Linked DNA regions of Homo sapiens. The protein of the gene in region 2 interacts with the protein of the main gene of each other region in a pairwise test. Each region holds a gene or a part of one and is shown on either strand. Other genes may lie near its edges.

Region 1 (3,500 bases), on a different chromosome or scaffold from region 2:
TAATCCCAGCTACTCGGGAGGCTGAGGCAGGAAAATCGCTTGAACCTGGGAGGCGGAGGTTGCTGTGGGCTGAGATCATGCCACTGCACTCTAGCGTGGGCAATAGCAAGACTCCATCTCAAAAAAAACAAGGATGATACATCTATAGCCACAGGATGAATATTATACATTAGTTACCAAGAAAAAAAAACAGGGGTGGGTGGATGGGTGTGGTGGCTCACACCTGTAATCCCAACAGTGTGGGAGGCTGAGGAAGGAGGACTGTTTGAGACCAGGAGTTCAAGACTAGCCTGAACAACATAACAACACCTGTCTCTACAATTAAAAAAAAAAAAAATCTGGGTACTGATATGGAAACAACTCCAAGATATGTTACATGAAAAACAGAAGGTACAGGATAGTATGCCACCTGGTGTGAGAAAGGGAAAAAAGGCTAGGCACACGGTGGCTCACACTCATAATCCCAGCACTTTGGGAGGCCGAGGCAGGAGGATCACTTGAAGCCAGGAGTTGGGAGACCAGCCTGGGCAACAGAGCAAGACCTTGTCTTTGCAAAAAAATAAAAATAAAAATTAGGCAAGCATGGTGATGTACTCCTGTAGTCCCAGCTACTCAGGAGACTGAGGCAGGAGGTCACTGGAGCCTGGGAGTTTTAGGCTGCAATCATGCCATAGCTCTCAAGTCTGGGCAACAGAGCAAGACCCTGTCTGAAATAGGGAAAAAAAAAAAGGAGGAAAAATATTTTTAATGTATACTCCTATTTGCTTGCATTTATATAAAGAAACTCTGGATGACTGCCCCAAAACTAATAAAGGGGTAAAATATTTTAAAAAGCATGCTTAATGTACAGGATCTTGGTGGTTGAGGACAGCTGTGGGAACCAGACTGAACACAGTCCTTTTTACATATGATTGTCATTTTTGAACCATGTGCAAACATTACTTATTCAATTTTTTAAAACCAAACATGAAAATAAATAAATGCAACTTAAGCCATATCATGTCATTCCTTTGCCCCAAACCAGTGCTTTCTGATCTCACTAAAAGTGAAAGGCAAAGTGCCCCCATCACCTACAACACACCTCCTAGCCCACTCTGGCTTCACTGCCGATTCCTGAACATGGCAAGCAAATTCCGACCTCAGATCCTCGGTACTAGCTATTCCCTCCACCTGGAGCACTCTTCCTTCCAGACATCAGCTTTGTTCCCTCCCTCCTTACCTCCTTCAAATATCTGCTAAAGTCACCCTACAGAAAATAGCACCCTCATTCCCCATTCTGCTTTTCCACATAGCATCACTCATTGTAATGTATTAAATATATTTATTTACTGTCTCTCTCACTCCCAAAATAGAAGCTTTATTGGGATATGGACTGTTTTGTTCTCTACCACATTCCCTGTACCTAGAACAATGCCTGGCACATAGTAGTTGCTAAATAAGCATTCACGGAATTAATACGATTATGGGGATTGAAGAAGCATATGAGGAAGTTACTATTATTCTCCTTTTACAGATAAGGAAACTGAAGCAGAAAAGCTGAGAAGCAAAGCCAAGATTTAAGTATCTAGTACGTGAGTGTTCATTGACCTTTCAACTTTTGTGGGGCAGAGAGGGGTCTCTGGAGGATACCCAAGTAAATAATTACAGCATTTGCCTGTTTCGGTGGGAAAGATGGGAAATACGGGGGAGAGGAGCTTTCATGACTTCTTACATCTTTTCAAAACCTTGTGAATATGTTATCTATTCATAAAGTAAATTAGTATTCTAAATAAAATATCAATAACCCAGATGTCCTACAACAGATAAATGGTTAAAAAGAGTTTGGTACGTACCATGGAATACTACTCACCAAGAAAAAGAAATGAACTACTGATCCATGCAGTGACTTGGATGAATCTCCAGAGGATATGTGAGTAAAAAAAGCCAATCCCAAAAGATTACATATTGTATGATTTTTTTTTTTTTTTTCCGAGACAGAGTCTTGCTCTGTCACCCAGGCTGGAGTGCAATGGCATGATCTCAGCTCACTGCAACCTCTGCCTCCCGGGTTTCAAGCGATTCTCCTGCCTCGGCCTCCTGAGTAGCTGGGATTACAGGCGTGTGCTACCACGCCAGGCTAATTTTTGTATTTTTTTAGTAGAGACGGGGTTCCACCATGTTGGTCAAGCTGGACTCGAACTCCTGACCTCGTGATCTGCCCACCTCGGCCTCCCAAAATGCTGGGATTACAGGTGTGAATCACTGCACCTGGCCTGTATGATTTCTTTTATATCAGGGGTCCCCAACCCCTAGGTCATGCGCTGGTACCAGTCCAGGGCCTGTTAGGAACCGGGCCACACAACAGGAGGTGAGCAGGGAGCAAGCAAGCATTACCACCTGAGCTCCGCCTCCTGTCACATCAGTGGCATGAGGTTCTCACAGGAGCTGGAGAATCAAATTGTGAACTGCACATGTGAGGGATCTAGGTTGCATGCTCTTTTTGAGAATCTAATGCCTGATGATCTGAGGTGGAACAGCTTCATCCCCAAACCACCCCATCTCCATCTGTGGAAAAATTGTCATCCACAAAACCGGTCCCTGGTGCCAAAAAGACTGGGGACCACTGATTTATATAACAATCTTGAAATGACACAATTATAAAAATGGAGATCAGATGAGTGGTTACCAAGGGTTAAGGTGGGGGTGAAGATGGGAGGGAAGTGGGGCAGCTATAAAAGAGTAACATGAAGGATCTTTGTGGTGATGGAAACGTTCTGTGTCTTGACTGAATCAACACAAATACGGTGGTTATGATGTACTAGAGTTTTGAAGATGGTACCACTGGGGCAAACTGGGTAAGGGATCTCTCTCTGTTACTTCTTAAAACTGCATGTGACTCTATAATTGTCTCAAAATAAAAAGCTTAACAAAAAATATGCAAAAATCTAAGTTAAGAACATCTAGCCAGTACTTTTTGTTGTTGCTGTTTGTTTTGTTTTTTGTTTTTTTTCTACCATCTAGCCAGTACTGTTAATCAGTATATTATCTGGTTTCCTAGACAATGAAGAGTCCGCCACGTGAAGATCTGGAGAAAGATTTGAGATAAGAGAGTTCCAGACAGGGAAACAAGCAATTGAGAAAGCTTAATAGGAAAACAAAACTATCATGTTGAAAAAACAGAAAGTAGACTGGTGTCACTGGAGTATAGTGAGAGACAGGCAGATAATAAAGATGAGATGAAAAGGACAGGCATGGGCCAGGTAATCTAAATCTTTACAGACCACTGTAAGGCATATGAATCTTATGTTTAAGTGGTATATGGGTAGAATCCAATAATTATTAGGTTTCTTTTTTTGGTAAGCCTGAAGACAAGAATCCTATGTACCCAAGGAGATAATAAAAAGCCCAAGGAGGGCAGGCATGGTGGCTCATGCCTGTAATCTCAGCACTTTGGGAGGCCGAAGCAGGCGGATCACAAAGTCAGGAGATCGAGACCATCCTGGCTAACACGGTGAAACCCT
Region 2 (3,500 bases):
TCAACAAAATTCAACCCCACTTTCTCCAATAATAAAAAAATGTTTTTTTAAACTGTTACTTTTTAAACAACGTGAAACTAATGAAAATTGGTTGCTGCTTTGAGAATCATCTTGTTTGGAGAAAAACATCCTGTGCTTCACCAGTTGCTGCCATGCCTTACAGAGATAAGGTCTGTAGTCTATGTCCACATCACACAGTCGTCGAGAGGCATGAGAAGGTTCTTCTGATGAGCTCGAGGCTTTCTGCATTATAGTTTGTGTCGTTGCAAAAAGAACCAGGCGATAGTCATTTACAAGCTTCTCTAAGCACTGAGAACATTTCCTCAGAGTAGACTCCTGTAAGTTCACACTTTCTCCTCCATTGACGCGGTCTATCCAGTAAAAAGCTGACAGGCTATCCAAAATCAAAAGGCAGAGAGATGGGTGACTACAAAACATACTTTCTAGTGAGTAAAGTGTAAGAAGTAAGTGGGTGCTACTACTGCAGTACACCAAAAAAAATCTTCCCAGGCAGTATTTGATTATTTCTTCAGAGCTTTGGGATAGTCTGTGCTCAAGAATTGTAACTAGCCGGAGCATATCAAAGTGGTAATCTGTATCAATAAATAAGACTTCTACTTCCAGGCCACCTTCTGATTTGGGAAGTATACATCGTGCTGTTAGGTGATAAAGCATTTCTGTTTTTCCTGTTCCTTCTGGGCCATGAAATTCAAGAATATCACCTGTGTAAAATTTAAAAATCTCAGTCAAAATGCAGTAGCTCAAGGGTAGGTTACAAAATGCAAAGTCTGCAAAAAAGTTTAAAAAGACACTTACTGGAATGTGAAAGAAAATCTAAATTCACTTTTGCCAAAATGGAGCTGTACAAGCAAATACAATAAATAAGGAAATTAGAGCCTGGTGGGAAGGTTGGAAGAGGCTAGGGGACTCTCCTCCGGCCAGGCTCACATGCACTCCCACTTCAATTTGTAAGATTCAAAAATAAAGAGCCACAGATCTAGGGCCTTTCCAAAATCTGATGACTACAGTACACACCCTTTCTGGTAGTTGATTACACTATATCCATTCTTCCCTTCTTCCTAAAGTATAAAACCCAATTTGATGGGGAGGGAAATGTGTCCACTTTAAAACTATTTTTCATAGTCTCCTTTGAAAAGCAAGGTTACCAGGTAACACAGCTGTCGCCAGTGAGATGCAGGCTGCTCTCTGTTGATGATTCTTTCCTATCCAGGGACCCCTTCTGCCCTGCCGCACCCTCCTGTGGGGGTGGAGCAGCCATCTGGAAGCAGTGAGGATGAAACCCACCCTTAGGATGGTGGCGTGGAAGACAGAAGGTACCCAGGACTCTGGGCACACGGAGCCCCCACCAGCCACGCACAGCCTGCCTCTGTGCCACTCAGGATGTGAGGAAAACAAGCCTCCACCTGGGCAAGCCACTAAGTTGGACTTCTATGACACGCAGGTGAAGGCACTCCCTAATTAGGTTTCTCAGTGTTATTGATGTTATGGGGGGAACAATTCTGGATTTTGTGGTTTCACACATTATTGAGGCAAGAGCCCATGGCTCTCAGACCCTAAATGCCAACAGCATCCTTCAACTGAAAACAACCTTACACGTTCCCAAACTGCCTTCAGTTATTCTTTGCTATTTGAATTATCTCTGGAAACCATGTCCAGCTGCATTAGAAATTATTTTCCTAGCATTAAAAATCAAAGTCAACTACTCTGAACGTTAAAGACTCCAACTCTCCTTCTATCTAGGCTCGAATAACTAAGGACAGCACAAGTTAAATCAAACAACACTGGGGAAGTTGCCTTGCTTCCAGAGCTTTTCAAAATGCACTCACAGTGGCATTCAACTCTTGCTTGTCATTATTAATTTACGGCTGAACTACCTGATTGGAAACACTATGTTAAAATGCCAATTATTAGCCCCAACCAAATGATGGTCTAAATACGGATTCAAGGGCTGGGCGCAGTGGCTCACGCCTGTAATCCCAGCACTTTGGGAGGCAGAGGCGGGAGGATCACCTGAGGTCAGGAATTCAAGACCAGCCTGGCCAACATACTGAAACCCTACTAAAAATACAAAAAATTAGCTGGGCATGGTGGTGGGCACCTGTAATCCCAGCTACTTGAGAGGCTGAGGCAGGAGAATCACTTGAACCTGGGAGACAGAGGTTGCAGTGAGCTGAGATCACGCCATTGGACTCCAGCCTGGGCGACAAGAGCGAAACTCCGTCTCAAAAAACAAAAACAAAAACACAAAAAAATGCAATTACTTTATTTCTTATTATTTAATTTTAATTTTTTTTTGAGATGGAGTCTTGTTCTGTTGCCTAGGCTGGAGTGCAGTGGTTCAATCTTGGCTTACTGCAACTTTCGCCTCCTGGGTTCAAGCAATTCTCCTGCCTCAGCCTCCCGAGTAGCTGGGATTACAGGCGTGCGCTACCGCGCCCAGCTAATTTTTGTATTTTTGGTAGAGATGGGGTTTTGCCATGTTGGCCAGGCTGGTCTCGAACTCCTGACCTCAGGTGATCTACCCACCTCGGCCTCCCAAAGTGCTGGGATTACAGGTGTGAACCACCGCACCTGGCCTTTCTTATTATTATCAACAAACCGTTGTATATTGGAGTATTCACAAATAATGTATAAGAAATCTAGGCTGGGTACAGTAGCTCATGCCTGTAACTCCCAGCACTTTGGGAGGTCAAGGCAGGAGGATCACTTGAGCCCAAGAGTTCAATATCAGCCTGGTCAATATAGTGAGACCCCAACTCTACAATTAAAAAAAAAAAAAAAAAGCCACCCATGGTGGTGTGCATCAGTAGTCCCAGCTAATTGGGAAGCTGAGGTTGGAGAATCAGTTGAACCCAGGAGGTAGAGGCTGCAGTGAGCCAAGACTGCACCAAATTTCCACCATAATCTTACATACAACTTGCAATTCTAAATTTACCTTAAGAAGAAATTTAAAAAATGATTCCACCTCAGCCTCTCAAGTAGTTGGGACTACAGGCATGTGTCATCATGCCTGGCTAATTTTTGTATTTCTTGTAAAGACTGGGTTCCACCATGTTGCCCAGGCTGGTCTTGAACTCCTGGGCTCAAGTGGTCTGCCTGCCTCAGCCTCCCAAAGTGCTGGGATTACAGGCATGAGCCACCATGCCTGGCTTCAGCTTTCTTATAGCATAGTATGTTATCAGTTCTCATAGACTTCTCTTTTGTATTTAAGAATTCTACACATGGCTGGGCATAGTGGCTCACATCTGTAATCCAGCACTTTGGAAGCTGAAGTGGGAGGATCACTTGAGCCCAGGAGTTCATGACGAGCCTGGGCAACATAGGGAGACCCTGCCTTTACAAAAAATTAAAAAAAAGAAATAGCCGGGCGTGGTAGCATGTGCCTACAGTCCCAGTCTCAGCTACTCAGGGTGAAGTGGGAGCCTGTGAGGTTGAGGCTACGGTGAGCCATGATCATGCCACTGCACTCTAGCCCAGAC

What was found.
Region 1: the proteins of XRCC2 (region 2) and NKIRAS1 interact in a two-hybrid assay, tested with the Homo sapiens proteins (one large-scale study listed by BioGRID and IntAct).

The regions. Positions count from the first base shown.
Region 1 is NC_000003.12:23,896,491-23,899,990, forward strand, and holds part of NKIRAS1 (NF-kappa-B inhibitor-interacting Ras-like protein 1), read right to left. Parts: intron 1-3,500. UniProt on the Homo sapiens protein: Atypical Ras-like protein that acts as a potent regulator of NF-kappa-B activity by preventing the degradation of NF-kappa-B inhibitor beta (NFKBIB) by most signals, explaining why NFKBIB is more resistant to degradation.
Region 2 is NC_000007.14:152,648,642-152,652,141, forward strand, and holds part of XRCC2 (DNA repair protein XRCC2), read right to left. Parts: intron 723-3,500; coding exon 1-722. UniProt on the Homo sapiens protein: Involved in the homologous recombination repair (HRR) pathway of double-stranded DNA, thought to repair chromosomal fragmentation, translocations and deletions. Part of the RAD51 paralog protein complex BCDX2 which acts in the BRCA1-BRCA2-dependent HR pathway.